2 separate regions of the Homo sapiens genome follow, and region 2 is linked to region 1. Evidence: fine-mapped expression QTL. Tissue or cell type: lung. Region 1 holds a variant in brackets; the other region holds the start of a gene. All regions are shown on one strand. Distances are from middle to middle.

Region 1 (16,419 bases):
GGCAAATCATCCCAGCTTACAGTACAATTTATCTACTGAGCCTGAAAACAGCCTCAGAGTCTTTCTTAGCACTGTGTGTTTTTTTAAAACAGCTATTATTAATTCATTAGAATTTGCACCAAAAATTAAACCTGTTTAGCATCACTAGTCTCACAGCTGCCATGTTATTCACTGCACAAGGGCACCTGAATTAGAGAATAAAATGGGGCAATACCCAACTCATGCTCTGTACATCATGGTCTGGGGCTGCATTCCAAGAGTCTTTTTCTAAATCACATAAGGCACAGACTAGTATCAGCTCTGTCTGTTCTAGGGGAATAAGCAGGGGGTTACTTGGTATAATTGGTGAAATTGATAAGGGAGAGAATATTCCGAAGAAAGAGAGATGAGTTGAAGCATCTATAGTTGAAGAATGGCTTGAACCTTGGCTTCTGAGCATGCTCAACAGTACATGCCCTTCAGTTGGAGAAACTTCAATATAACGTTAAACCAGCAGGGCATGGTGGCTCACGTCTGTAATCCCAGCACTTTGGGAGGCCAAAGCAGGTGGATTGCTTGAGGCCAGGAGTTCTACATCAGCCTGGGCAACATGACGAAACCCCATCTCTACAAAAGAATATAAAAAATTACTCGGTCATTGTGGTGCATGCCTGTCATCCCAGCTACCCCGGAGGCTGTGGTGGGAAAATCACCTGAACCCGGGAAGTTGAAGCTGCAATGAGTCATGATTGTGCCACTGCACTGCAGCCTGGGCGACAGAGTGAGACCTAATCTCCAAATATATATATATATATATATATACACACACACACACACACACACGCACACACACACACATATGTGTGTGTGCGTGTGTGTGTGTATAAAACATTAGACCAAAAGCAGTTTTCTATTTAATGATTCATTTTTGTTGTTTGTTTAGTTATGTTCTGTATTAAAGAAATACATACATGACATCCTGATTTTCCACAATAGAGAAATTAAGTGATAAATGATTCATAGATCTATAGTTCCCCAGGTGATTCTGATGTACACAACTTAGTTGAGGCCCAGGTAGCCTAAAGAGTATGACAATTGGCCTGGGGGGAGAATCAAACTAGAACCCGTATGAACATAAATAAGACTGTTCACCTGCCCCTTACCTGTAGGTAAGGGCATCCTGACATTCACCACTCTGTAATGAGAAGCTCCTGGTAAATGGGGATGTGTGGGACTGAAGAAATTGTCAGAAATTCAAGAAATTGAGTTAGAGAAAATAGAATAGCCAAACTACAGCCCAAGGATGAGGCCACTGGAGATAAAACTGTTTAGGACATATGCTCTGGCAAGATACCAGTAACAAAATCTGGCAGCCACACAGCTCTCTGATGACGCTTACCTTTAGCCAGTTTTAATATGAAGAGTTATCATTTTATATATAGCTTATATCCCGCCTTGCTTTCCGTCCCCTTCACCGTTTCAGTTGCTCGTCTCAGGGTCTTCTCCAACTCTATTATTCCTGTCTTGTACATAGACCAGAACTACAAAAAAGAGCCCGGATGCAGACACCTCAAGGATTTACAAAAAAAAAAAAAAAAAATAGAATGACTGCTTACTGGTTTTTCCTCCAATTTTTCTTAATGATGTTCAACATTTTCCTGATTATTTTGACCGAAACAATACTTGGGCAGCTGTCTTCAGGAGAGAGTCTATAAAGGACCCTTGGCACCCTTTCCAGGGATGACAACTCAGAACTTGTCATTTTAACATATGCTTGAAGAAATCAAGAAGTAAGGAGATTTTAGGGGTGGAAATATAGATGTGATTTGAAAAGCCAATATGAATAGAGATAAGTTGTTGGGATGGGCTTGTATGGTAGGAAAAAAAAAAGAGTAGAGGCCAGGCGCAATGGCTCACACCTGTAATCCCAGCACTTTGGGAGTCTGATGCAGGGGGATTTCTTGAGCCCAGGAGTTCAAGACAAGCCTGGACAACATAATAAAACCCCCTCTAAAACTAGCTGGGCATGGTGGCACTTGCCTGTAGTCCGACATATTTAGTAGGCTGAGGCAGGAGGATCGCTTGAGACAAAGAAATTTGATGTTATGGTGAGCTATGGTTGTGCCATTGCACTCCAGCCTGGGCAACAGAAAGAGACCCTGTCTCAAAAAAAAAAAAAAAAAAAAGCAATGGGTAAAGATGTATAACTGCCTGGGGAGTAATTCTGTCTAGCTAGAATATAATGTGAATAAAGTCATGATGGATGCTGGGGTTATAAATGTGGGTTGGGACCAATGTACTCATGTACTTTCTCTTCAAAGATAATTTGTGAAAATGATAATTTAGACCAATCTCAAGGCTAATTTTAAGAAGATTCTGCCATTAACAGTTAAAATATCTCTAAAATGGCATAATAGAATCTGTTCTATTTTCCTCACCAGAATACTGTGATTACCAGATGGCACAAGGGGTATGGAAGACCTTGGGTAATTGACAAGTTGTCAATTACAATTACAGAGTGGTCATATTGCCTGCAAAATTCCCCATCAGCTCCTCCCACTCATCTCTAAGCTCTTACATTACATGTCCTGCAATGCTATGTGGACTGTAATCAAAACTTTTTGGTTTAAAAACTTTCAAAGGTGGTTTTTTTTTTTTAAATTTAAAGTTCTTTTGTCTGAGGCTCCCACTTTTGTATCTACTTTCTACTTATCCCAAACTCTAGTATAGCATGATTTTCTGTTATGGAAATCAAGCAGGTTCTCTCCATTAAGTTCTGTGCTTCTGTGTTTTCATAATCCTAATGTTTACTCTCCATTTAACCAGATTACTCAATGTATCATGAGACTATCTGGAGTCTGTAGTTTCCAGAAGCCTCTCTGGAGGATTTGTCTTGCATTTATTCTGAAGAATGCTCTGCCAGAAATAAAAAGTTGACAGACAGCAGATTTTTAAGAGTATTGGAAGGCATAAAAATATAATGGCTAAGAGAGGAGTTGGATTGCTTCAATCTATAATCCTGGCTTTATCTCTTTCCTCTCTATAATACAGGGTCGTTTCAACTGTTGAGTTAGGTAACATATGGAAACTGCTTAGCACCAGGCATGATGTATACGGAGTGCTTAATTAGTGTTACCTATTATCATCATTGTCAACACTATATAAATAACAAAGTTGACATTTGATTTGTAAGTATTCTATATGAATATGTATGCAAAAGCATTTCAATCTAATAAGCAACCACAAGGCTAATCTTCATCTCATATGTGTAGTCAAAGTACATAGATTCATGGTTTATGCCTCAGATAATTGAAAACCCACCACTTTCATTTAGGTGGCTGTTTGGAGAAAATATGTCACATTTGCATAATGCTTTATGATTAAAAAGAACCTTTTAAGCATATTTGCACTTAAGCCTTATAATAAATTATTAGAAAGATGACTGGACTTTTCCAATACTACACAATAATTGTGCAATAAAACTGATATTAGAACCTAAGTCTTGATCCTTGTATCATGAAAGGCTTCTTTATTATTTGTTAAGATCCCCTGGACCATCTTGACATCACAAAACAAGTATATGTTAGAAAAGTTTTTATTTTAAGAAAAATATCCAAAAGTTTGCAGCCAGACACAGTGACTCACGTCTATAATCCCAGCACTTTGGGACGTTGAGATGGGAGGATTCATTGAGCCTAGGAGTTCAAGACCAGCCTAGGCAACACGGTGGAAACCCCATCACTATGAAAAAAGAAAAACATTTTAATTAAATAAAATAAAAATAAATAAAAGTTTGTATGGCAAATTTATAAAGAAATTTATAAGACCCAAGGTGACCAACGGAATAGGCATAATAGAATGCCCATTCCCCTCAAAGCCTGAAAAAAATGTAGGACTTTCTTTATGACTGCCCAGATTGTAAATTTCATCATGTTTCAGGCTCTCAGACCTCAATGGTCAGAGATACTCAAGGGGAATTTTATTTAAGACTATTAAATGTAAAAAGTAGCTACAGATGGAGTACTTCTATAATTCTACTTCATCCTTGGTGAAAGATATTTTCATTCCATGCTGAGAACTGTTCTTTTTCCATCACTCAGATTACTTTATGAGCCATTTGCTTTGCCAGTAACTACTTTTTTTCCTCTTTTAATGGAATGAAATGGACAAGGTTAAGGCTCATTATCAAATTGGAATGCAGAAGCAACATTTACCATACTTCAAATTTGCCACTGTAGAAACTGTAAAAAATATATGTATATTCTTTGTATAACATTATGTATGTTAATAATATCAAAAAATAATAAAATAAAATCCCCAGAATTTTCTGCTTTCTCAAATAAATTCATTAAGTGTAAAGAACTGGTTTTTAAGATCTTCTGATTTAGACATTCAAAGTATTGAAAGGGTAGATTCCAGATTGATAACCATAAGGGTCTTTAAAGTGGCATTTTTAGGCAGGGCGTGGTGGCTCATGCCTGTAATCCCAGCATGTTGGGAGGACAAGGCGGGTGGATCTCCTAAGCTCAGGAGTTTGAGACCAACCTGGGCAACATGGAGAAACCCCGTTTCTACCAAAAATACAAAATGAGCAACATGGAGAAGTCCCATTTCTACCAAAAATACAAAAAAAAAAAAAATAGCCTGCCATGGTCACGTGCCTGTGGTCCCAGCTACTCAAGAGGCTGAGGTGGGACAATCGCTTGAGCAACAGGGAATATATATATATATATTCTTTTTTACAGTTTCCGCAGTGGCAAATTTGAAACACACACACACACACACACACACACACACACACACACACACATAAGTTTGTTACCCACTGAAAAACTCTGAAGAGACCTTGATGCATTCAAAGCTATGAAGTTTAGTGAAATATTTAAACTCGCTAAAAACAAGCAATTGAAGCAAGATAGATCATGTTTCTTAATATTTTAATTGTCCAAAAGGTTTTGAATTCTCAGAATGTAGAGTTATTCTATCTGTACATGAATACAAAATCAGTTACCAGTCATTACATAATAAATATATTTTATTTTTATTTCAATCCTCCTTCTTCTGTAACAAACTAAATATCAACAAATTTTAGGCTGGGCATGGTGGCTCACATCTGTAATCCCAGCACTTTGGGAGGCTGAGGCAGGCGGATCACCTGAGGTCAGGAGTTCAAGACCAGCCTGGCCAACACGGTAAAACCCCATCTCTACTGAAAATACAAAAATTATCCAGGCTTGGTGGTGGGTGCCTGTGGTCTCAGCTACTCAGGAGGCTGAGGTACAAGAATCACTTGAACCCGGGAGGTGGAGGTTGTAGTGAGCCAAGATCATGCCACTGCACCCCAGTCTGGGTGAGAGAGGGAGACTCTGTCTCAGAAAAAAGAAAAGAAAAGAAAACAAAACAAAACAAAACAAATTTTATTTCTGGATATGAGTAGGTGAATAGATCACACTGATAGAGAGAATGGGGAAAAAGGAATGATAACTGTGTAGCACAGCATCTATTCTAAGGTTCATATTCTATATGGAACAGGGCATACTACATCACTTTTTGTTATTTTCAAAAAATATAAAGGTACTCAAAGTTCAAGATTAATGATTTTATACTATAACACCTCAATGCACTAAAGAAACAATTACAGAGAAATCAATATAACATTATTGGTAAGACATGCACACTGACAACTTGGCTATCTGCTTGATTGAGTATAAAAGTGTGGTGTATGTGCCTTCAAAACAGGGCCTAGATGTTTAGCATAAGAATAAAACTGCAGATACTTTTTTAAAATGCTACTTTATTTATTTATTTATTGAGATGGAATCTCACTCTGTCACCCAGGCTGGAGTGCAGTGGTGCAATCTCAACTCACTGTAACCTCTGCCTCCCCAGCTCAAGCGATCCTTCCACCTCAGCCTCTTGAGTAGCTGGGACCACAGGCATGCAACCATGCCTGGCTTTTTTTTGTTGTTGCTGTTGTTGTTTTTGTATTTTTGGCAGAAACGAGGTTTCTCCATGCTGCCCAGGCTGGTCTCAAACTCCCGAGTTTAGGAGATCCACCCGCCTTGGCCTCCCAACATGCTGGGATTACAGGCATGAGCCACCACGCCCTGCCTAAAAATGCCACTTTAAAGACCCTTATGGTTATCAATCTGGAATCTACCCTTTCAATACTTTGAATGTCTAAATCAGAAGATCTTAAAAACTAGTTCTTTCTTTACACTTAATGAGCTTATTTGGGAAAGCAGAAAATTCTGGGGATTTTATTTTATTATTTTTTGATATTATTAACATACATTGTAGATAGATCTACAATGCCAATTTATAACTAAGGCAATTATCTGAGTCAGACCAAAATATCCACTCTTACCTGCATTTATGAAGTGTTTTGCTCTGCTCTTCAATGCTCAAGTTGCAGCACTGAAGTGGTGTCTCAAGTGATAATAAAATTGATGTTAAACTCTCTATATATCTTAAATAATAAGTCTTAGAAGCGGAACAGGAGTGATCCTCTGTTAACCACCTACTTTACTAAATGAGGAAACTCAAGCCGAGAGAGGTGAAGTGGCTTGCTGCATATCGTGAAACTAAATGTTGGCACAGCTGGAGCACAACTAGGTCTCCAGTTTTACGGTCTAGTGTACTTCTGACTTCAAGAGACTGACTCAGGCCGGGCGTGATGGTTCATGCCTGTAATCCCAGCACTTTGGGAGGCTGATGTAGGAGAATCACTTGAGCCCAGGAGTTCGAGTTCAGCCTGGGCAACATGGCAACACCCTGTCTTTATCAAAAAAAAAAAAAAAAAAAAAAAAGAAAGAAAGAAAGAAAAAATAAGAGACTGCCACAAGTTTTAATTGGTTGCGCCCAAAAGTATAAGATAAATTAATCAGGCAGTACATCTCCATGCATACCAACCATACGGGAGTTCATTCTCAGCAAGGCTGAAAAAAAAAAAGTATATAAAGATTTCTGTTTAATGGAACTTTCTTGCTTTTAAAATGATAACAGAAGTGGCTGGGCGTGGTGGCTCATGCCTGGAATCCCAGCACTTTCAGAGGCCGAGGTGGGTGGATCACTTGAAGCCAGGAGTTCAAGACCAGCCTGGACAACATGGTGAAACTCCGTCTCTACTAAAAATACAAAAATTAGCTGGGTGTGGTGGGGTACGCCTGTAGTCCCAGTTACTCAGGAGGCTGAGACAAGAGAGTCGCTTGAACCCAGGAGGCAGAGGTTGCAGTAAGCCAAGATAGCACCACTGCACTCCAGACTGGACGACAGACTTATTATATCTGGTAGATTTTTTTGTAGATTCTTCTCTGTAGAAGATCATGTTATGTGTGAATAAGGAGAGCCTTAACTGCTTTCCTTCCAGTCTGGATGCCTTTTATTTCTTGCCTTATTACACTGAGTAGAACTTCTAGTATGATGTCGAATAGAATTGGTGAGAGCAAACCTCCTCATCTTGTTCCTGATCTTAAGAGCAACCCTTTCACTTTTTTCCCCTTTATTGATACATAATATTTGACATATTTATGGGGAAATTGTGAGTGCTTCTTACATGCATAAAATGTGTAATGATCAAGTCAGGGTACGTGAGGTATCCATCACCTTGAGTATTTATCATTTCTATGAGTTGGTAACATTTCATGTCCTCTTTTCTATCGAAAAGCATTCACTTTTTTAAACCATTAATGTGATATAGGCTACAAAGATTTCATGGACAACTTTGGCCAAATTGAGAAAGTTTCTTTCAATTTCTAGTATCCTGAGATACTAGACATGACATCTTTTAAAACTTTTGTAGGTTTTTGAAGGTTAAACAAAAGATGAAATAATCATCATAAACAGAAGGACATCAATGTTTTTCCATTAAAAAGATTCCTGAGAGGGCAGATGTTATATATGAAAGAGCCTAAATAGAGTTCTTTTTATGAGACAGGGTCTTCCTCTGTTGCCCAAGGTGAAGGGCAATGGTGCAATCACTGCTCACCACAACCTTGACCTGCTGGGCTCAAGTGATCCTCCCACCTTAGCCTCCCACCTTGCCTCCCAAGTAGCTGACACCACAGGCGTGCATCATCATGCCTTTTATTTTATTTCATTTTTGTAGAAACAAAGTCTTAATATATTGCCTAGGCTTGTCTTGAACTCCTGGCCTCAAGCAATCCTCCTGCTTTAGCCTCACAAAGTCCTGGGATTATAGGTGTGAGCCACCGCACC[C/T]GGCCTAAATAGAGTTCTTATGCATTTCTAGAGACAGTTCAGGCACTTATTGTTGCATGTCCTTCTGCAAATGACTTCAAAAGAAGAGGGTGTAAAAATCATATTTTTAATAAAAAAGTTGAAGAAAGTACAAGAAATGTTTCAAAAGCAATAATTTTTAAAATATAATGATTTTAAAAGTGATTTCAACATCACATATGTCTGCCATAATGGAATTATAACCTTAATAGGAAGATGTCTCAAGTTTTGTAAAAAGGTTTTCTTATGACACAATAAAGCAAATACTAAAAATCAGTAATATTTCCTACAAGTTTTGGTTGCATACCTGGGTGTGGTGGCATGTGTCTGTAGTCTCAGCTATGCTGGAGGCTGAGGTGGGAGGATCACTTGAGCCCAGGAATTTGAGGCTGCAGTAAGCTATGATCATGCCACTGCACTCCAGCCTGGGCAACAGAGCAAGACCATGTCTGGAAAAAAAAAGTGTGAAGAAGATGTATTTTTTTTGTTGTTGAAACGAGGTCTCACTCTGTTGCCCAGGCCAGTCTTGAATTCCTGGTCTCAAGCGATCCTCCCACCTCAGCCTCCCAAAGTGCTGGGATTACAGGCATGAGCCATGATGCCCAGCCTGAATTATGAACTTTTCGTGCATTTGTGAACCCTCTGATGGACGCATGAATTGAATGTTCATTGAAATGATCAGAACAGGTAAAGCATCTGATTTATATATTTTGGGAAGTGAGAGTCTTTAATTACAGGAAAAGTCCACATGAGGTCTACATACTTATTTTTCAAATTGATGTGACTCAGTGCCATAGACTCCCTCCCTCCCCCACCCATTTATACTGAGCCTTCATATTCAGAACAGCAGAAAATTGAGGCACTTAAAGTTGAAGCACTTATCTGAATGATTAAACCCAGATCAACAAGTGAAGAGCAATTGTAACAGCACAAAAAGAGGACCAAAAAGGGGCTTTTTGTTCACTTTTTTTTTTTTTGCAGAGGGGTTCAGGGCTTTAAAATAATTCATTTATGAACTGAATGGTCTTCTTCACAGAAGATCTTTCCATTCATTCAAAAAAATCTCATATGCTGAGGAGACATGCAGGAATGGGAAAAGATGAAAACCCAGGGAATAAAAAGCAAACCTGCCTCCTAAAAATTAACCAGTCAGCTGGAATATTACATAATCAAGCATGGTTTTCTAAGGTTAAGGTTGCTAGATATGGCATGAGGCATACTTATACTAAAAAAAATTATTTGTTGTTTATCTCAAATTCAGATTTAACTGGGCATACTGTAATTTTATTTGCTAAATCTGGCAACCTAATAAGGTGTTATACCCTCACGTCTGTGGCATTTAAAATTCAGAGCTGGGTTTTATAATTTAACGTCCTTTAAAAAACAAAGCATTTTTACACCGCTGTGTGCAGGGGTGGGGGCGGGGGAAACTCTTTCTTCCCTGACTGTAAAAAAAATTTTTGAAACCTAACTGTTCCATGATTTTCGTAAACGTTTTGCAAAATTTATTTACAGAAATTAGATTCTAAGTTCCTATACGATGTCAACATCAATGTAAGACAAAGTTCTAGGATTGTAAGTTTTCCAGTTATCCGTGGATGCACTACCTTCTCAATCAGAATGTTGTATTTATTTATTAATGCCAGACTTTATGTTTCAGTGAGCTTGGAGGAAGGGGAAAAATTCAGGAACACCACTTTGCTATTAGTCCTGGCGCAGTGAGCACAATGTAGGCTCTGTATCTGCTTAGTACTTGCTGAGCAACAGAGGGTTAACATCTTTTTCAATGTTGCCACTCAAATTGCTGCTTACCATCTAAAGTACAGGGTACAGAGTGGAGAGAAAGGCCACAAGGGTCATTATGCTTTGGTGGAAAAAGACGTATCATTATTTTCATTCTATACAATGCCAACAACTCATTTATTAAAGGACAAAATTGGAAATTCTCCACTTTACTCTTGAGGACTGTTTTATTTCCACAACCTGAGGAAAAGAAAGAAGGCTTTACAAATGGATCGCTGCAATTGTCAGGACCTTTTGATGCCAACAGGCGGCCCTCATCCAATTACACTATGCTCATTGTTGAAGCAATTGAATTTCATTTCTTCCTTATGTTGAGTTTAAATTTTTTTTGGATGTTGTCTAGCTGCTGCTGTAGAGTTGAAATATTTTAACATCTGGTAGCTGAGGCTTGCTTCATGAAACCGACATATTATTTGGTCAGTCACTGAAGGAAATTAATTACATAAGGTTTCAGCCTGGAGAAATCTCTCTCTTCTGTAAAGACATATTCTATTTCATTTGTACCACCATGTGTCGTTTATTCCTTCTTGCTGTGTATTATAGTTGTGTGCATGGTTCATCTCCCCTATTCAACCATGTAGTTTGCTCATCTTAATCTGCTCAGCCAGAATTTTATATTATACACCACAGTTTCTTTTAGTTTAGTTTTTTGTTTGTTTGTTTGTTGTTAATACAGACACTCTCCCTCTCTTGCTCAGTCTGGTCTCGAACTCCTGGGTTGAAGCCATCCTGCCGCTTCGACCTTCCAAAGTGCTAGGATTACAGGGGTGAGACACCATGCCCAGTCACATCACATCATAGCTTTTGTTTTTGTTTTGTTTTTTGTTTTGTTTTGTCTTTTTTTGTAGGGGAAGTGTCATAGGTTTTCGATAAATATTTGTTGAATTTGGCCAGGCGCAGTGGCTGATGCCTGTAATACCAGCATTTGGGGAGGCCAAGTCGGGAATTTGAGACCAGCCTGGGCAACACAGTGAGACTCTGTCTCCAAAATAAATAAATAAATAAATAAATAAATAAATAAATAAAAAGTAGCTGGGCGTGGTAGCCTGCACCTGTAGTCCCAGCTACTTGGGTGGCTGAGGTGAGAGGATGGTTTGAGCTCAGGAGTTCGAGGCTGCAGTGAGCCATGATTGATGCCACTGCACTCCAGCCTGAACGACAGAGCATGACCGTGTCTCAAAAATGGATAGATAGATAGATAGGTAGGTATATATATAGATAGATAGATTTGTTGAATGAATGAATGTGTGAACTGTTTATATATATATATTTGTGTGTGTGTGTGTGTGTGTGTGTGTGTACAATGATCAGAGGCATACCCAGATGTGTGGGGCTTCCAAGCAAATATCTCCAAAAAGAACTTCTTTCCTTTTATTAACTTGAAATAAAAGACTTTAGATTTCTGTTATCCAGGACTACTTGGACTCAGAGAGAAGGAGGAGAAAGGTTTTAGCATTTTCCCCATAGACAAAATCTAAACTTCTTGGTCCCCTATGGGTAGATAGAGAGGTTTAATTATATTAAATAAAATTAAATAATAGTGGTAAGAAGTGAGTGTTAACTCTAAGTGCAGTGTATTCCAGAGTCTTAAAGCAGGTCTTTTATCCATCATTAGTTGGATTTTAGGTCAGTGTATTTTTGCATATCTGGAGGATGACTTGAATGTGGCCAGAGAGGATGACAAACACTGGAGGGCTAGAAATGTTACTCTGGAATGGGGAAAAGTGATGTGAAAAAAACCTTGGATACAACCATGGGAAGAACAGTGCATAGTAAGAAAAATGAGGAAGGGGCCAAGTGAGAAAAGTTGGAGGCTAGTTTAGAGATTCCGCTGAGTAGAAGACCAGGAGAATATATTCAGTATTCAAGAGGCTAAGGACATAATTTTGAATCCAGAGTACATTCCAGATCAAAGGCAATGCTCTTCCTTAAAAATACAGGTGGGAGGGAAGGAGAAAACATGAAAGACAAAGAGAATGAAGAGATAGATGATGAGACAAGCAAAAAATGCTAAAACTAGTGAGGAAGAATTGAAGACCCCACAGAATAAGGCTAAAGTAATGAGTTTAGGCACTATACTGGAAAATCGGATAAGACTTATTGAAATTTGATCAATCAATTTAAAAACGATACTGGTCCTTACTATGTACCAGTCATTGTACCAGGTTCTTTTTCTATTATATCTTATTTAATCTTCAAATAACTATTTATTTGAAGTTAATAATAAATAGTAACTTATTTATTATATCTTATTTAATCTTATTTAATCTTCAAATATCTATTTAAATAAAAATGTTTATCTCCATTTTCCAGATTTCAAAAATGTGGCTCATATACATCATATTCAAGATCACACACATAGTGGGAAATTGAGAAAGAATTCCAACTCAGAAATAATTTAAGGGGTTCCTGACAGACTTGAATCCCACATCTATTCCACTTAATGAATGGAGCTTGCCTCAGAAGGGTTCAAATAACTATGCATCTCTATATTTACTGCTATATAGTTTCTTTGTTACTCTCTGAGATTTGATGACACTGGAATATAGTAATTTTGTAATAAATAAAGGCAACTGAAATCCTAAAGAGAATGGAGGTCAGAAGGGAAATTACATTGCTCAGAAAGCATATTTCCCCTTTCCTGAAGGTGTGACAACAGAAAAATACATGCCTTGACTCCCTCCACCACCTCTCAACCCCCATATCCCTCAATTCCCTAATTCTAGGAACTAGTTTTATGTAGTCACCTCTTACAGGTGTGCCCTCACTTCATGCGCCAACCCAATCCAGACTCTAAATGGGGGAGGGGAAAGGCAAAGCAACTTGGTGGCTATTCATATCACTCAGTTCACATCACATCACATCACATCACATCATATCACATCACATCACATCACTCAGACTGAGACATTTTGTTCCACTTTTGATGTAGATCCTGTCAATAACTTGTGCTCCTTCTGACTTTAACAGCTCTTCAACTGATTTCCTGCTTTCTCCCTCCCTTCTCCCTCCCGCTACTTCAACTCATTTCAGGGGCTGTATTACTTGGCCTTAAACTCTACACTTGTCAACACTGACTCACTGGTTCCTGGTGCCACTCCTTCCAGATGCTGACCACTACTAGCACTTCCTCCAATTCTATTATTAACAATAATAAAACTGATGAAGCACTGTTAAATTTGTTCTTTTACCTGGACCTTACAATCATGTATACTTGGGTGCATGTATATCTTTTTTTAAATTGTTGTTGGGACCTTACACGTCATGAACGTAGCTAACTCATTAAGCCTAATCAGATACGTAAAAGAAAAAGTTAATGATCACAGTCTAAAAATAAAATCTGAATTCTAGAAAGTCTTAATTTGCAATACAGAGCATTGAGGTCCACAGAAATGGCTTATTACAGAGGATTCTTTTCCCAAATTAAGAAAAACACTATATGATTCCTTGGCACAGAATTAGACCTTACAAAAAGAAACTCCTGGTACATGTATTTTCTTTTTTCTTTTCTTTTTTCGAAACAGGGTCTCATTCTCTTGCCCAGGTTGGAGTGCAGTGGCCATCACTCCACCTCCAGAGCTCAAGTGATCCTCCCACCTCAGCCTCCTGAGTAGCTGGGACCACAGGTCCCAGGCACACCACCATGCCTGGCTAATTTTTAAAATTTTTGGTAGAGATGGGTTCTCCCTATGTTGCCCAGACTGGTCTCCAACTCCCAGGCTCAAGTGATCCACCCACCTCAGCCTCCCAAAGGGCTGCCATTACCGGTGAGAGACATCACAATTACAGGTGAAAGCCACCACAATTACAAATGAGTTCCTTATCCTCGTTTGAAGGATAAGGAACTTGAAGGATTGTGAGTCGTTCTCAGACACGAGGTTAGCAGAGCTCCTTTTTCCGATTAATAGACCAGTACTCTTAGACTTAAGCCCTGTTGTATTCTGACTATTCCTTTTCCTATTAACTGATACACTGTTTTTTGTTTTCTTTTGTTTTTTGTTGTTTCTTTTCTGAGACAGGGTCTCACTCTGTCGCCCAGGCTGGAGTGCAGTGGTGAGATCAGAGCTCAAAGCCTCGACTTCCCAGGCTCAAGCAATCTTCCTGCCTTGGCCTCCCAAAGTGCTGGGATTACAGGTGTGAGCCAACGCACCTGGCCCAGATCTATCTTTGAACTCAAGTCCTCACATGTTTGTGTTTTGTCCTTTGCCTCCATGGGTGTTTCTCTTTCACCTAGAAATTCTCAAATTTTAGAGGGCACCCAAATCACCTGGGATACTTGTTAAAATGTGGATTCAGGGACCTCAACCCTGAGGGATCTGATTTAGTATGTCTGGAGGAGGGACTCAAGAATCTCCATTTTAACAAGTATCCATGTGATTCTGATGCAGGGAGTCCAAAGACCACCCTTTGAGAAATGCTATTTTAGCTAGTTTGAAACAAAGCTCCAGTCAAATAATTCTGAAAGTGAAAATGCTGGGGTATTATTCAATTTGAGTGTTGTGTTGCCTTGAGTTATAGGGCTCTTACACAATGTGAAATGAATAATGTGGAATGCTGTTCACTGCAATAAAATGTCAACATTTCAAGTATTTTTTCAAAAGACTTCTTAAGAGTTGCTCTTTCCACACACGGCCCTGTTTAAAAGGAATTACAGCTGCTCCTACTTTTATAGCTAGCACATCCAAATCTGCCTATAAAATATTTAAAATGAACAAAGTACAATTACAGCTATATTTACAGTTGTGTGGAACAAATCCATTGCCTTCAAAATTATAAGTCTGGCTAAGTAAAACCAACCAAAAACTCTACTGAAAACAATGGAATTTTTAAGCACATAAGCAATGGAACAAATCACATGTGGAAAATCAATAGATTTAGAATACACAAAAATGGAAAAAGTTGAAGCTCAAAAACCATTACTAAACAAGAAAACCTAAAACACAAGCCACAAACTGGGAAAATATTTGCAACAAACATTAAGAAGGGTTGATAGATTTGAAATATAAAAAAGCTCACGAAAGTCAAAAGGGAACATGGATAAAGAACAAGAACAGAGATAAATACATATGGGAAAGTTTAAGAACTTTATGGTATACATATTTTTTAACATTCAGCGTTTTAAAACACCAGTGATATATACCATTTTTGTCAGTCAAATTAAGAACGTTTAAGGGATTGAGAGAAATTTCAGTAAAATGGATAGGTACTCACAAACACTGCTAGTATAATAGATGGACAAATTGGTGTAAAGTTTTGTTTTGTTTTGTTTTGTTTTGTTTTGAAACAGGGTCTGTTGCCCAGGCTGGAGTGCAGTGGCACAATCACAGCTCACTGCAGCCTCAACCTCCGAGGCTCAAGGGATTCTCCCATCTCAGCCTCCTGAGTGGCTGGGACTACAACAGGCCACCATGTCCAGCTAATTTATTTTTTATTTATTTATTTATTTATTTATTTATTTATTTATTTATTTTTGTAGAGTTGGAGGACTCACTTTTTTGCCCAGCCTGGTCTCAAACTCCTGGGCTCAAGTGGATCCTCCCTGCCTCAGCCCCCTAGTGCTAAGATAACAGGTATGAACCAGTAAGCCAAGCCTCAAACTTTCTTTAAAACAATTTAAGAATTCTTACTATGAATGTTTTTTGAAAAAAAAAAAAATCACACACTTAGTCTCAGTAAATTCCTAAGACTCTAGTCTAATCGGAAATTTAGAAAAAGGACTAAGAACAAAATTATTATTATTATTATTATTATTTGAGACTTGAGTCTCACTCTGTCGCCCAGGCTGGAGTGCAATGGCACGATCTTGGCTCACTGCAACCTCTGCCTCCCAGGTTCTAGCAATTCTGCTGCCTCAGCCTCCCGAGTAGCTGGGATTACAGGCGCCTACCATCATGCCCAACTAATTTTTTGTATTTTTAGTAGAGACAGGGTTTCACCATGTTCCATCATGTTGGCCAGGCTGGTCTTGAACTCCTGACCTCAGGTGATCCACCCACTTCAGCCTCCCAAACTGCTGGGATTACAGGCATGAGCCACCGTGCCCGGCCCATAATTATTTTTAAGATGGAAAAATTGGAATCAATCTAAAGATGATAAAAGAATGATTAAAGAAACAATCCATGGTATATCCACATGACAATGTTATATAGCAATTTAAAATGGTTTTTTCAAGCACTTAATGGTGCTTAAAATGTTTCAGATACAAGGATGCTTTGAAAAGCAAGATATGGCATTTATATATAATATGATCCCAATTTTCTTTTAAAACATTTTTACATGCATATAAAAAAGCTGTAAATAAATAAATCAAAATGCTAACAGCTGTTATCTATGGGTGTTAAGGTTTTTATTCTTCTTTTAGTGATTATCTGTGCTATCAATTCTCTACAATGACCATATGTT
Region 2 (16,419 bases), 37 kb after region 1:
TAAATTCTCTATGAACATGTGGCAGCACCAGAGTCTCTCTGCACCTAGTCTGGTTTGGGGTGGCTGCCCCATCGTTCATTGCTCAATTAAACTATGTTAAATTTAATTTGTCTGAAGTTTTTCTTTTATCACTTCCTAGGAATGAAAATGGTTTTCATTTCTACTTGCCTATATCAAGTCTTACCCATCTTTGTCAAGCCTAGCTCAAGTTCCATTGCACAAAGGATGCCTTCTACAACTGCTTTAGCCCTATTATTCTCATTCTTTTCAGCCTACCTACGGTGCTTCTTATATATTCTATCTTGAATTGTTTTCTCATTATTACAGTTATGTGGACTTTGATCTTGAATTAATATTAGACTATTAATTCGTTGTGTTTTGAGACCATACTTTTTCTATGTTGCTTATAATAGTTATCTGATTGATTAATTAGATATTTAACACCCAGAAAGTCGGGAGAGGGGAGGGTGACACTTTAATTTTGAGCATTTCCAGTGATGATAGTGATCTTTGTTAAATCTACATATTATAAAGTCCATACTGATTAAATATGTCCTAATCCTATTAAAGAGACTTCAATTAATTTTTTGTTTTTTATTTTTTAATTTTCTTATTCTCAGATACTGATAATTTTTTTTTTAACAAGTGAAAATCTGAAATAAGCTTGGACATGTCAGAGTAATTTCTTTATGTGAATGTGCGTGTAAGATAGTTGGCCTGCATTAGCAGGCATTCACATTCATAATAATCTTTAGGTTTGAAAAATATTTGACAATTGCCTATTCACTATTAATATTCATGTCCTATACATGTGTACATTTTGAGTTGGAAACATAAAAACACTCCACTAATAAACAGTGGTAATAACTGTTCAAATCTGTATCCTATGGATCAAAAAAAAATTAATAATTGTCCAGGTCTTCCAAGATTTCCTCTATGCCAAATATTTTAAGTATGAGAGAAACCTTTAAAATCATACTTAATTTTAATAAAAATGTCATCTCACAGCACACTGAATAAAAAGAGGGATTAGGATCAATCCAAGAACCTAAAATATCACAACATGGAATAGAATTATCCATGAATTAAAAAGATGATTTAAAAAAGGATAATTCCTTGAAAATAATCTGATAAAATAAAATACAATTAATTAAAACAGATTAGTACACAATTTTACATTTAGAGACTGAGAAAACAATTAGGTGTGTTAGAAAAATGATTTAGTATTGAACTGATCAAGATTCTTTAAGTTATTCCTGGCTTATATAAAGTTTATGCAGCAAAATCATTTTTTAATAGACTACAGAAAGGAGGTTTTAAAAAAAATGATAAAAATTATCTCAGACGGGGTGAGGAAAAAGAAGAAAAAATAAAATAAAATAAAATAAAATAAAATAAAAAATGGATAAAAAGTTCAAGCCAGTGGTCAGGCACGGTGGCTCACCTCTGTAATCCCAGCACTTTGGGAGGCCAAGGCAGGTGGATCACCTGAGGTCAGGAGTTCGAGAGGAGCCTGGCCAACATGGTGAAACCCCATCTCTACTGAAAAAACAAAAATCGGCCGGGTGTGGTGGCAGGTGCCTATAATACCAGCTACTTGGGAGGCTGAGGCAGGAGAATCGCTTGAACCCGGGAGGCAGAGGTTGCAATGAGCTGAGACTGTGCCGTTGCACTACAGCTGAGGTGACAACAGTGAAACTCTGTCTCAAGGAAAAAAAAAAAAGTTCAAACCAGCAATGACATGTTAAGAATAAAGAATTAAAAATGGATAGAAGAGGAAACTGACAACTTACTCTAGGAAAATTTCAGGGAAAATTTTAGACTATGTACACATAATACATTGTGAGCTAGACTGGGGAGAGTGTTGGGCAGAACAATAGGAAAAAGAGCAAGAAAAAGGGGGATGTGCGTATCAAAAGGAGGAAAGAAAAGTAGTTTGGACAGACAAAAAACCTAAGAGAGATATTGGCGCCTTCTTATGATATCAGCGGAGGACAGGAAGAATAAATGGTTTTCAAAATTTTGTGATATTGACTTTAAGTGATTTATTACAAAGGCATTAGGATCGAAAATTGGAAATGGAAGGAAAGGTAAAAACTCTTAGGTTACTGATTCACAAGGTCTGTGAGAATCCTATATATATTAATAGCTTTTTGTTGCTGTTGTTTAACAAGAATAGACATAAAATAACCATTGGTTCAGCAAACATTTACTGAACTCCTATGTGTCAGGCACTATGCAAGTCACTGTCAAAATAAATTAAAGCCTATAAGCAGGTGGAGGGAACCCTGACAAACATCTGTGCAGGCTTTTTGATACAGATAAGAAAACAATCAACTTTGGGTTACTTCGTGAATGATCCTCTATGAGGTAAATTGATGGCATGAAAAATTATAAAGAAATGCTGTTTAAGAGCTTTGAGCCTGAGGATCCTTTCTTCCAGCAAAATGCTAAATTTGAAAAGATCCTTTAGATTCTGGGCAACACAAAGGTAGCTTAGTTACATCAAACTGGCTGGGTATCTTAATAGTATTCATTAAAATGGAGTTCTACCTGGATTATATAGTGGAGCTTGTTAAACAGGAATCTCAGCTAGCATCCAAATAGGTGCTTCTGTGTTTAGGGTGTGTTTTATCTGTTGGAAAGTTACTGAGGCAATGAGAACTAATGCCATCAGCTAGGTACACTGCAGCTTTGAAACTATGGACTATTGCATTTCAATTAAAATGACATTTCTTGACTGAATTCTGACATCCTCAGTGATAGTGGTGAATGAAGACTTTTATCAAAGTATAGATTCTATTAAGCTTTTAAAAAATTTTATTAATTTTTTTTGTAGAGATGAGGTCTTGCTATGTTGTCCAGGCTGGTCTTGAACTCCTGGCCTCATGCAATCCTCCCACTGCACAGCCTCCCAAAGTGCTGGATTACAGGCGTGAGCTACCCTACTCGGACCAATGTAAGCTTTTTTGAATTAAAAACAGGAACTGTAAATAGCATATACGTAGGATTCTTAATATTTTTACTTTAAATTCTAGAATTTGAAAAATAAACTAAAATTGAATACAACGTAATTGAGACAAATATATCTGCACTGGAAAATTTAGCTTACAGAGTCCCTTCATGCTATTGCTCAGTCTGTAATTTTAAGTTTAAGAGCAGGTGGAAGCTCTTCAGCGGTGACCGACAGACACCATAAAAGGTAGAAAACTGAAAAAGCCTATTTCCTGTATCTAAAAATTTTTTGTAAAGAATTCCAGAAGTCACACCAAACCTTTGGCCAATTACTGAATGCTAGAAATCTCATTTGGGAGCTTACTGTAAATGTGTGTGGCAATGCACTGGCTCCATGTTCAATCCAACGCCAACATGTTGAAATCAGTATTTTTGTGCTGGCCCAAACCTGAACCAGTAGAAAATCTCCCATAACAGAAATTCAATGTTTGTGAAAGCATGATTGCCCTCCCATTTCTTTTTCACCTTCCTGTGCCTTTCATAAGTTCTTCCAGTTGGTTAATCATTAATTAATATTTAACAAGGCTTTTTCCTCGTGCCAAGTCCTCTGCTAGTCTAGCCTTTAGGCAATATATGAACTCCCCAAGTTCTTCCCTTTTAAGAAGCCTTGGCACTCACTACGGATTAATTTCTCTAAGGAAATTCATAATGGCAGATGAAATAGGGGTTCCTTTTCAAGAACATTCCATTTTAAAGCCTCTCAGCATTTTTTCCTGGTACATGTAAAATGCGACTTAATTGAACTAATTTTAAATGTTGACAGAACTTTCCAAGCACACATTTCCTCAACAAAATGGTTACGACTGGAACAGGAAAGGGCTTAGACTTTTTCTTCTACAGCTATCCCACAAGTCAGTCTCTTGACCTGACCCTGCAAAATCCCTCAAACTCTGGCTCTCTGAGTTGATTTTGGATATACGATGAACCATAGGTTTGGAATGCAGATAACCTCCACGTGTATTAATGAAAGAGGTCAGCTATGACGTGGAAGCCATCTCCTGGGCAGAGAAGGAGAAGAAATGGCAGTCTGGGGAGTAGTAACATGTCTCCAAATTTTCTCTGGTGAAAGGAGACTGATGAGAATTGATACCCATTTCCGGTCAAAAGAGTGGAACCAATGTACTTCCAACCACCTCCTCTCAACCCCTCTCCGCATGGACAAACATACCAGACAGGTGATGTGGGCTAACAATTTACTTGGCATGAGGCCAAAGGCTTGAGGGCCCTGCCCTGCCCATATTCTTCTCCCTTGACTTCTTAAGGAAAGGAATGATTGCTGATGTTTCCCTCTGCACCCTTTGGCACCTGGACTGATTGTTGCAGATGTAATTAGGAATGTTCCCCAACATGCCGTTATTCTTCTCACGATTCTGGGAGAAACTGTACCCCTCCCCCATAGACTTATATAGGTGGCATTCAAATTCTTGTTCCCAACTTTTTCATCTTTTTATTAATCCCACAAGATTGTGTGAATGTGTACTCCGAGCCAGGCACGTTGGACTTCTAACTTCCTCTTAGCCCAAGTAGGAAGGGGAGACTCAGGCGCTGGGGACCATTCTCCTCTCCCTGCAGCAGAGTTGCAGTCCCTATCCCTCCTGGGTGCCCATCCCCGTGCCTATTTTCCTGGATCCCCACCCAGTTGATGTGACAGGCTCGTGGCCCAATCCCCTTCCTGGTTCCCAGGCCGACTGCTAGCACCACCCGAGCCAATGGCGGCGGCCGAGGGGCGGAGGGGGCTGGCAGGAGGGGAGGGAGCGCTGGCTTTAGAGCCACAGCTGCAAAGATTCCGAGGTGCAGAAGTTGTCTGAGTGGGTTGGTCGGCGGCAGTCGGGCCAGACCCAGGACTCTGCGACTTTACGTAAGTGCTTTGTAGGCGCCGGCGGGCACTAGGGGAGCGGGTTTCCTGGGCGTGGGCAGGAGTGGGTCCCGGGGAGAGCATCTCGGTTAAGCTCAGCAGGAACGTGCGGCGCACCGTGGGGCGGGGGTTGGGGGAGAGGGAGGTCGGAGAAATTTCAGTTGGAGCCCTCGGGCGCCCGGGCGATCGGTCGCAACCGAAATGGGTGTGAGTGACGGGGAGTTTCCCTACTAGCATCCGCCGCAGACACGTTTTCTGCACTTCACTGTATTAAGTGGTGTTTTCTTACTAGTTGCTCTTAACTTGTTGCCAGTCTTGGGCTGGAGTCCTAGACGCCAGCCCTTGCCCTGATTCCCCTCCGCGGCTGCGGCCCCGAAGTGGAAAGGGAGCGCACAACTTCCCTCTGTCGTCCTTCTCCAGCTACTGCCATCCCCTCTTCCCTCCCGCCCGGACTCAGGAAATCCCGGAGCCAGCAGCCTGCTACTCCTCCAGCCCCCACACGCCCGCCTCGGGTGACCTGGCTGGCTTAAGCCGACCCTGGGGCTCTGGAGAGGGGGGGCCGTGGCCGAGGGAAGGCACGAGGTTTGGGTTGCCTGCCTTCTGCCTGCTTCCCTCCCTTGTCCTTAGCGAGGGCGTCGCGAACGCACCTAGTCTCCCTATGAGTAAGCACTTTTTTTCCTTTCAGTAGGAGAACATCTCTGGGCTAGTAGGACAGTACCTTTCCGTTCTCCCCTGGCCCCACACCCCCTGTCCTTTTTTCAGCTCCTTTGACTTTGCGGCCCCGGGCGCGCGGTCGGGGCGGCGGCAGTCCCGGACCTCTCCCGACTCTTGGAGAGGGAGAGGCAAAGGGGCGACGGGAGGGAGGTAATAGTCTACCCCCCCGCCCTTTCCCCGCACAGCTGCACTTGCCTGTGTTTACTTTTCTCCACCCGCAGTACTTAAGCGCTGTAATGAGAGGCCCGGGGACGCCGACCACCCCCGCCCTGGCTTCTCGCCAGTCCCAAAGTTGCTGCCGCCGTCGCTGCTCCAGTGTGCTGGCGGTTCCGACCGCCGGGCTCCGGGACGTAAGATGATCCCAGCCCGGGAGGTGGAGTGGGGGTTAATGGCATCTGACTCTAGCCTTATGCGATGCTCCTTGCCTCTCACCTGAGCTGCACGATATCCCCAGTGGTGCAGAAGGTTGAACTTTTGCAGAAGGTTGAGCTTGGAGCTAAGTGGGTTGGAGAGCCTCGCCATTTAGCGTCAGACAGACGGGATGCTGGGGGCGCCCGGCCTGTTAAGAGGGATTGGGAGGAGGGAAGGGAGCCTGGCTAACAGTAGGTAGAAAATGTAGGGAAAAGTAAAAACCATTGAGGGGCAAGCACTTACTCCACTTTGCTGGATGTCACAATGGACTGGGGAGCCTAAACTTGATCCTCGAGATGCAGTTCATGGTGAATTCCAACTAAGTGGCTGGAGCCCCACACATACCAGTTGGAATCACGTGCCCCAAGTCTCTGATGGTCACATGACGTCTTTTTACTTTAAAGCTGGAATGTAATGGTTGAGGCCCATATTCCAAAAACCACCTCTACGTTTGAAAAAAAAAAAGGTGGGGAGGAGTGTGAACTAGCTTCTAATCAAGGAAGTCTACTAGGATTTTGGATGAGGGGACCAGAAAGGGAATTTGGTGCTCAGCTTTTATCCAAAACAAAAACAGGAGCTGTTTTTAAAATAAGGGATTGAAATATATGTGAGCTGGGACATGTATCTCCTCTCTTCTTCAATCTCATGGTTTTTCTAAATTTAAAAAACATCTTACTAATTATTTTCTAGGGAAGTCATCCTATTACTCATGCCTCATTTTGTCCCTGAATACTAGATTTGAAGCTAAATCCCACAAGATAGTGTTAAAAAGTAAGGCTCTGTTCATCTTCCTTGGTCTGGCCTATATTCTAATTGAACTGTTCCCTATTTTAGGCAACTACTTAAAGGTAGTAAATAACCTCTTGACTAAAATTAACCACCAGTTATTTGTGGTTTTCAATTAACTGGATTAGAAATCATGCACAAAAACAGTGGATAGTAAATTTGATACATCGAGTTGGTTGGGTTTTTGCCTGTCAGTGGTTTGGTAGAATAATGAGAGGACACTGAAACAACTTTCCCATATTGACCTATACCCGCCCAAGTGGCCCAAGTTAAGGTTGCTTCTGGGAAAACGTGGCAATTTGGCTATTCAGATTATATATTACAGAGTATAGAAGAGAGGCAGAGGAGCCTCTGAGGTCAGGAGTTTAAAAGCTTTGCTTATCTGAAAAAAAAAGAAAAAACGGACCTGGTTGATGCATATTCAGTCTTGAAAACAACTAGGGCAGAAGATATTTAAGAGATTCTGACTTTGTATTCTTTTGCCAAAAACCCTTTGTCTCCTGCAGCAGCCTCTGAATGACCGGAGCACTCCAGTTTCTTGCTGTTCATCCGTTTCTGAGCCTGAAAACTAGAACAACCTTAAAGCACATTGTTCTGACCCCAAGGCTAGCCTTGTGGCACAGATGAGCTGGAAATGGATTTAAGGTGCACCTGAGTTACTAGAGTTAACTACACTGGTAGATAGACCCCTCTAGTGGAAGTGAGGTGATAATATAATTTTAGATCGAAATAATAAATGTTTAACCTCAAAAAAAGGAAGTTATTACCACTCAACTAGGTTACAGTGGTAGGGGGATAAGTTCTTTTTTAAGTATTGTGAAATCATGTCTAAACAGAATCATCGCTAGGCTCTAGTCCACAGCTTTTCATTGTCTTGGGATGCCTACTCATTGAACACCACCCCCAATATTGCTGACTTTTTTTGGTGGTATGATCTAATGAGCCCAAATTTTTATTGAAATTAGGGGGCTGGGAGTCAAATTCTTGATTTTTACTGTTAGATCTAGCAGATAGCAACCCCTTTACCTGAGGTGGGGAGCTATTAATAAATAAATAACACTTTGCCTTGACTTAATACAGACGATCAACATTGAAGTCCAAAGTCTCTAGTCTGATGTAACCATTTAGATTCAATTGATAAAAATGACTAGGCTTATGGCATTTTGGGTAGAAGGATTAATTATAACTAGTGAGTAATAATTTGGGTGAGATTAAGCCTCTTCCACAAGTGGTTACACGCACATTAGACTTTGACTGTGACTGTTTATACTGGCAGAATGTCAGTATCTAGGGCACTATCAGAAACCCAATGAGATTTTTCTCCCAGGAGAACAGAATTCTGTTACTGAAAATAAAAGGGCAGCTTGGCCATGGTGCTTGAGCACCAAAGTGGTTCTTTTTGGTGACACTGAGAGGGTACAAGAAGAAAGTCCATTTGCCATTATCCCATATTCTGTTTTAGGCATTATTTCTACTTGGATTTTCATGAAATGTACTGACAGTGTTCTTAGCACATATGATAAATTCATGAGTTTGCTGTTGTGTTTGATCTAGCATAATCTATGTGGAATGTATAAGCTGAACTGTTTCTTTTTTGATGTTTGGTACAGATTATGAAAGTAGCTGGTATAAAATAAAATTTGAAAATGAATATCTCTCAATACATGACAACAATGGGGTATCTGTTTTTAGAATCATGTTGTCTTTGGTCATATGGCAATTTTTCTTTTGGTGAAGAGTGATCCAGAAGGCAAAATTTTTGATCTGTGAAAATAATACAACTCATTTAGAAGAAGTCAGCTGGGTCATGTTTTGAGTCTGTATTATTTTAGACAGTGATATACCATATAATGTATATTCAGTGTGTTGGAGGTTTCAAAGCTTTTTGGATACATTACAATGTTGGAAGATTTTTATATACCAGTGGTCATGACTAGCTGATTTTAGTTATGAGAGCGCTTTGGTTAAAGTTATGGAAACAGTCTAATCGTGAAATGTCAGTCTTAGAAGATCTGATCATACTTGGGCCAATTTATTTTAGTTACGGAGGTGAGACAATTTCAGAAGATTCACGATAAATTTAATAATACCAAATTTTGCCTTAGTCTTGACACTTGGAAGATAAATATTAGTGAGTATAAACTGTTTTAGGGATGAAGAAGTATTGTTAGTATACAAAAATGAAAATACTAATTATTTTAGCATGGGTCTTTTAGTCCTTTGCAGTCTGGACAGATAGATTATCTTAAGTAAATCATTGAACTTGCCCTCAGAGGAATTAGATTCTAGATAGTGCTCTGCCATTGACTCATAATTTGACCTTCGGAAAGTCATTTAAAATTATTATATTAATAACTAATTGAGTACATACATGTGCCAGACACCATTCATGCTTTTGTTTATAAAAAGAGAGGATTGCTCAAGCTTTTTGGTTTGCTGGGTTTTATTTTTTCAAATATTCATAATCTGGCTTATTTCACTTATCAGTTGACTTTTCAAACTTTGATGCAATTGCATTGATCCAAGCTAAATACTTTGTTGGCAAATTGATGACTATTCAGGAAAGTGATCACCAGTGGGTTATTCCATGACTAATGTTAGTTCTTTAAAATAAAGAGGTGCCATTTATTTAATTCCTTGACAGGGATTTTTGGTGCATTAAGCCTACTGATTTTATAATATGAGAAACCTTACATTTTCTTAAAAGTTTAGAAACGTATTTGATAATAAGGAGGTAGTGTTGTTTATTGGAAAAGCATTGAGCATAGAATTTAGGGTCTTTTAGTCCTTTGCAGTCTGGACAGATAGATGATCTTAAGTAACTCATTGAAATTTTCTGTGGTCATATCTGGGTTTCACTTTATTTTTAAGCCATGTGATTCCAATCTACATATTTCACAGGCATGGTAAAAGGATAAGTGAGAAACGTGAAGCCTTGGCTTTTAAGCAGACAGGTGCTATATAAATTCAAAGTACTGCAGCAGTGTATCATAGAAACACTAAAGCTTTAACAAGAGTTTACAGAAATGGCAGGGTTCTCATCACGTAAGTCTTGCCACATTTTTCTTTGTCTGTAAAAGTTCTGCACCCATCCAATTTTTACAAGCAAAGGAAAAATAAAGCCAGACATATTATAATGAAAAATAAGAGACTAGGTTGATAACAATAGAATAAAAACCTACATGTGATACTTTCTTCTTCTTCTTTTGTTTTGTTCTGTTTTGTTTTGTTTTAAAGACGGAGTCTTGCTTTGTCGCCCAGGCTGGAGTGGTGCAGCGGCCGTGATCTCGGCTCACTGCAAGCTCCTCCTCCCGGGTTCAGGCCATTCTCCTGCCTCAGCCTCCCGAGTAGCTGGGACTACAGGCGCCCGCCACTGTGCCCAGCTAGTTTTTTTGTATTTTTAGTAGAGACGGGGTTTCACCGTGGTCTCGATCTCCTGACCTCGTGATCCGCCCGCCTCGGCCTCCCAAAGTGCTGGGATTACAGGCGTGAGCCACCGCGCCCGGCCCGTTTTGTTTTGTTTTGTTTTGAGATGGAGTCTCGCTCTGTCGCCCAGGCTGGAATGCAATGGCGTGATCTCAGCCCACTGCAACCTCTGCCTCCGGGTTCAAGTGATTCTCGTGCCTCAGCCTCCTGAGTAGCTGGGATTACAGGCGCGTACCACCACGCCTGGCTAATTTTTGTATTTTTAGTAGAAATGGGGTTTCACCATGTTGGTCAGGCTGGTCTAGAATTCCTGACCTTGTGATCCGCCCGCCTTGGCCTCCCAGAGTGCTGGGATTACAGGCATGAGCCACCGCGCCCAGCCCATGTGATACTTTCTTCTATTTCTTACCTCAAATATTGTGCAAGGTAGCCCGTTAAAGCCATTAATTGGGTGGTGTTTTTCCCCTTTTTAACTAACTACTGAGTAGAATTTTGGTCTTCAGTGGTAATTGTTACAGAGTCCATTGGCTTACCATACCTCATTTTTAGTTTTGTGATTGCCCATAATGGGAGGTTTCGTGTAAAAAACCTCATAAAAAATCAAGTTTTTCCTCCTCATAATTGCAGTCTAAAGGAGGACAACACGCAGGTCTGGGAAACTGCATAGTGGAAGAGATAATCTATACATTTAAGTAGCATGCCATGAATAACACAAAAAATGGCCTGGCACGGTGGCTCACATCTGTCATCCCAACACTTTGGGAGGCCGAGGTGGGTGGATCACTTCAGGCCAGGAGACCAGCCTAGCCAACATGGTGAAACCCCGTCTCTACTAAAATACAAAAACTTAGCCAAGCACGGTGGCACGGGCTTGTAGTCCCAGCTACCCAAGAGGCTGAGGTGGGAGGATTGCTTGAGCCTGGGAGGCGGAGGTTACAGTGAGCCGAGATTGCGCCATTGCACTCCAAGCCTGGGCTACCGAGTGAGACCCCATCTCAAAAGAAAAACAGAAAAACAAACAAACAAACAAAAAAAAACAGAAAATGTGGGAAGTTAAGTTGAAAAATAAACACCTTCAAAGCTATTAACTTGGATTTTCTTTTCTTTTCTTCTTCTTTTTTTTTTTTTTTTTTTTGAGTCAGGTTCTCACTCTGTCGCCCATTCATACTCTGTCCAGTTCATTGAAAATACAAGTCTGATTCCCTTGAGTTGTGATATTCATACACACACGAGTATATATACACTTATGTGTGCATATGTATATTATATAAAGTTTTACGTGATATATAATATAAGTTTTTACTTTCTGTAAAATAAAATTTGTTAGGGCCGTATAATAGTTTTGAATATTCATATTATTGTGTTCCACATTATAAGCTCTAATTACATCGTGTTGCACTCAGATTGACATTCTGCTGTTGACACTGAAAATAACGCTTTCATTCATAGATGAATGTAATTTTCAAGCTTTTTTTCTATATTTCTTAACTTGCTTGAATGTTCCCATTTTTGCCATTTCTTGTTGTTCATTTTAACATTTTGGGGCTTGTGTTTCAGATCAGGAAGAATCACCATTATAGGGTGCAAAGAGTTTGCTCAGAGGTGAAAATGATACGAAATTGTCCCTAGAGCACATCCTATTGCTATACTATTCAACATGTATGAATTAATCTACTGGGAAAGTGTCTTGTGTAGTGTGTACTTTAAAGATGTTTTCAATCACTTTGCTTTGGATTAGAAAAATTCAAGGTAACTATAATTTTAAATGCTCATATTTTTATGTTTATTTTATATGTAGGAAGAGAAATTTTTAAAAATTGGAATAACACTATATCCCATTCTTTTCATTTATTACATTATAAACATGTTTCCAAGTGATCAAATATTTTTAAAAATGTTTAAAATCACTGCAGTATATTTTATATAATGGCTGTTTCATAATTTATTTCACTAATTCCAAGTTGTTGAACATTTGTTTCCATATCTTACAGATAATGCTTCAGTAAGCATTCTTGATCGAACATCATTTTGCACTCTATCATTTTTTAGAAGTCACCAAGAATGTTTTAAAGATGAATTCCTTTGATAGTCCCTGAAATTTAAACATTGGCTTAAACAAAAAGATAGCCTTGATTTCAGTGGCATTTAAAAAAAGAAGGCTGGGCATGGTGGCTCAGGCCTGTAATCCCAATACTTTGGAAGGCCAAGGCAGGCAGATCACTTGAGGTCAGGAGTTCAAGACCAGCCTGGCCAACATGGCAAAACTCCGTCTCTACTAAAAATACAAAAAAACTAGCTGAGCATGGTGGCGCACGCCTGTAATCCCAGCTACTTGGGAGGCTAAGGCAGGAGAATCGCTTGAACCCAGGAGGTGAAGGTTGCAGTGAGCCAAGATTGCACCACTGCACTCCAGCCCGGGCAACAGAGCACGACTCCGTTTCAAAAAAAAAAAAAAAAAAAGAAGAAGAAAAAAGAAAAGGCCATTCTTTATATAGTGTATTGTATCATATGTGACTCTAAACTGGAACTTGTTTAGGTAAAGTATATGTCTTGGAAGTATTTTGGTTTTCTCTGATCTAGTTAGCAGGTGCAGAGCAGGATGAGGTAGGATTCTGTGCTGTGTACAATCATAGGAAGTTCTGTTTTTTGAAACGGAACTGTTAATGGGGGAAGGGAGACACGTTTGTTTTTAAGAAGCCTTTATGTTTAATATTATTATAAAACTCAGTTCAAGTATACAAAGCTTATTTGTGCCTATGAACATTCAGTATCCTAAAGAAACATTTAATCCTGGTGTTGGCTAAATGACTATTTGCTGATATGCCCTTTTATCTCAAGGCTATTAGTTTCTTAAAGTACTTTGATATCACTCAATAAACTACAGTTAAACTCAGAGTTTTACATTTCATTCAGGTTGCTTAAATAATATAACTAAACATAGGTCCAATAATAGTAAAAATTCTGATGCTGTCACTTAATTTGTGCCTGGTTTCAGTATATGGCGATTGCTTAAATTACAAGCACTTGAATTTACAAATATTTTGTGTATTTAAATGGCTCATTGTACATTACATATCCCTCCTGAAACTTAACCCATGCCATTTCACAGACCCTTCCATGGTGTTTTTCTCTTTCCTCCAGTTCACTAGCCTCACTCACCAAAGACTTTATTGGTCTGGGAATTCTATTATGACCCAGAAGTGACTTGGAAGGTTCCTTTCACCCAACAACACATTCTCACTACCTTTCTTTTCTTTTCAGGGGCATCATTTACATGCTATGTTGCACAGTCAGAATGGATTTTAGCATAAAGTATGGGTTCCAATAGCTCTCGCATTTTATTATTTATTTATTTGTTTAGAGACAGAGCCTCACCTTGTCGCCCAGGCTGGAGTACAGTGGCACAATCTCGGCTCACTGCAACCTCCATCCCCCAGGTTCAAGCGATTCTCCTGCCTCAGCCTTGTGAGTAGCTGGGATTATAGGCTCCTGCCACTGTGCCCGGCTAATTTTTGTATTTTTAGTAGAGATGGGGTTTCACCGTCTTGGCCAGGCTGGTCTTGAACTCTTGACCTCGTGATCCACCTGCGTTGGCCTCCCAAAGTGCTGGGATTACAGGCATGAGCCACCGCGCCTGGGCCAGCTCTCCCATTTTATATCTCTGTGGCATTGAGGAGGTTTCTTAACTCTCTGAACCTCAGTTACCCCATGAATAAAATGAAGATAATACACTCACTTTTCACTTTGTTCTCATAATTATTATATGAGAACACTTATAAAGCAACTAGCATATGGTAGGTGCTCAATAAGTATTTTCATTTACAGGTTGATTAATGTTGCCTTAGATGATTTTTGTCAGGCATCTATATCTACCTCTTTTTCTCTAATTTGAGTACCTTCCTACCTTCCTTTTTTTTTTTTTTTTTTTGGACAGAGTCTTGCTTTGTCGCCCAGGCTGGAGTGCAACTGTGCGATCTCAGCTCACTGCAACCTTGACTTCCCGGGGCTCAAGCGATCTCCGTGCCTCAGCCTCCCGAGTAGCTGGGATTACAGGCGTGTACTACCATGCCTGGCTAACTTTTTTTTGTAGTTTGTTTTTTAGTAGAGATGGGATTTCCCCATGTTGCCCAGGCTGGCAAGATTTTAGAAATTAGTGGGGTTTTTTGTGTTTTATTTAATGGTATTGGAAAAACACTCCTTTTATTGTTTTTCATTGTGAATGTGAAGGATTCTAGCCATGTTTCAGGTTGAAGAAGCTTCTTCGCTTAGCTCAGAAACCTGTTTATCGTTTAATTTATTCTTTTTTTTTTTTTTTTTTTGAAACGGAGTCTCACTGTGTCGTCCAGGCTGGAGTGCAGTGGCGCGATCTCAGCTCACTGCAACCTCCGCCTCCGGGTTCATGCGATTCTCCTGCCTCAGCCTCCCGAGTAGCAGGGACTACAGGTGCCCACCACCATGCCCTGCTAATTTTTTGTATTTTTAGTAGAGACGGGGTTTCACTGTGTTAGCCAGGATGGTCTTGATCTCCTAACCTCATGACCACCCACCTCGGCCTCCCAAAGTGTTGGGATTACAGGCGTGAGCCACTGAACCCTGCCATTTAATTTATTCTTTTGTGAGGATATGTGGAGAACTAGCCAAGACCCGTCACAGTGGTTTACGCGTGTAATCCCAACACTTTGGGAGGCCAAGGCGGGCAAATCACTTCAGCTCAGGAGTTCGAAACCAGCCTGGCCAACATAGCAAAACTCTGTCTCTACTAAATATACAAAAATTAGCCAGGCGTGTTGGCCCATGCCTATGTACCCAGCTACTTGGAAGGCTGAGGCACAAGAATCCCTCGAGTCTGGGAGGCGGAGGCTGCAGTGAGCCAAGATCGTGCCACTTCCCTCCAGCCTGGGTGACAGAGCAAGACTCTGGAAAAAAAAAAAAAAGAAAAAGAAAGAGAGAAAGAGAAAAGGAAAGAGGAAAAGGAAAAGGAAAGAAACAAGAACTCACCTTCAAAGGAAAATTGGAAACATGGCTCAGTAAATTACAGACACCGTTATAAACTCAAGGCCGCTAACAAATACAGCTTAAATCAGAATGAAAGGTAATAGGTAGTGTTGATACCTGACTTGTGGAGGAGGAAAAAAAAGTAGGGGCAAAGAGAAAATATATTATTGAAAACTTAAAATGCTGAGGATGGCAGAGGGTTATAAAGTAAACCAATATGTTTTCATGATGACATGTAGCCTTTAAAAATGGCTGAATCTAAAACATACTTATGATGCCCATTATTTTATCTAGTGGAAATTTTCAAAAGCAAAAACCAGGAAATGATGAAGGCTATTGACACATTCAGAAAATATTCTGAGCAGTTTGTGGGTCTCCATTGTAAAGCTACAGTTGAATCATTTTTACAAGTGGGTATGAATAATTACAATTTTATATTTTGTCCTGTGGTAATTAAAAAGCAAATAGAGCCAAATTATCATTAAGTGTAACTAACAGAAAAGTAATATTGATAGATTTACATGTTTAAAAATATAAGCCAACCCATGCATTCAGTATTTTATCCTCAAACAAGGTGTTCCAGCTTTAGTTGACACTCAGATAAAAAGCAAACTAGTGGCTGGGCATGGTGGCTCACATCTGTAATCTAAGCACTTTGGGAGGCTGAGGCAGGAGGATTGCTTGAGCCCAGGAATTCAGAACCAACCTGGGTAAGATATCAAGACCCTGTCTCTATTTTTTAAAAAATAAAAATAGAAAATAAATTTTAAAAAAGCAAACTAGAATATATCTAGTAGGTGCTAGCAGAAGGGGAAAAATTCTCTAAGCAGAGATTTGTGTAAAAATGAAGGGAAGGTTAATAAGTATCTAGAAACTGTAAGTGTTGTATAAAAGAAGGCTTATAGACCATTGGTAAATAGATGTAAAACTCAAGGAAACTTTTAAACGTGCCCAAAGTTCTTAAGTATATATTAAGATGGTACAAACTACAGATGAAGTAATAGTTAACCAAATATACTAACATGCACAATTGCTTAATTAGTCTATTTGTGGAATGGTTTCATTATTCATTCAACTACCATAAGTTTAATGCAGACTGTTAGGTGCTAGGGCTACAAAGACGGATAAGATACTCCTCCAGTCTAGTAGAACAGAAAGACACAAAAATAATCTTGGTTCTCATGAAACCTAAAAATATTCATAAATGTAGAAAATGA

Alleles and levels. Positions count from the first base shown, and alleles are read on the strand shown. Sizes are in standard deviations (SD) of each study's normalised expression.
For the expression in lung of the gene that starts at base 6,344 in region 2, T is the low allele of the variant in region 1 and C is the other (small effect, 0.19 SD a copy in GTEx).

Evidence for each region. PIP is the estimated chance that this variant, and not a neighbour inherited with it, causes the effect.
Region 2: PLS3-AS1 starts here. The variant in region 1 is fine-mapped to the expression of PLS3-AS1 in lung (GTEx, PIP 0.98).

What each region holds. Positions count from the first base shown.
Region 1 is chrX:115,519,106-115,535,524 of GRCh38, forward strand. PLS3-AS1 (PLS3 antisense RNA 1) reads right to left here. Exons shown (of 3, transcript NR_110384.1): 3 at 1-606. Among named protein-coding and RNA genes, the nearest start is that of PLS3, 34 kb to the right of the region's middle. The variant C/T (reference allele first, on the strand shown) is at 8,197.
Region 2 is chrX:115,556,388-115,572,806 of GRCh38, forward strand. It overlaps PLS3-AS1 (PLS3 antisense RNA 1), which reads right to left and starts at 6,344. Exons shown (of 3, transcript NR_110384.1): 1 at 6,239-6,344; 2 at 6,017-6,143. PLS3 (plastin 3) reads left to right here and starts at 4,787. Exons shown (of 16, transcript NM_005032.7): 1 at 4,787-4,873. RefSeq lists enhancers at 5,561-6,336, 9,707-10,271.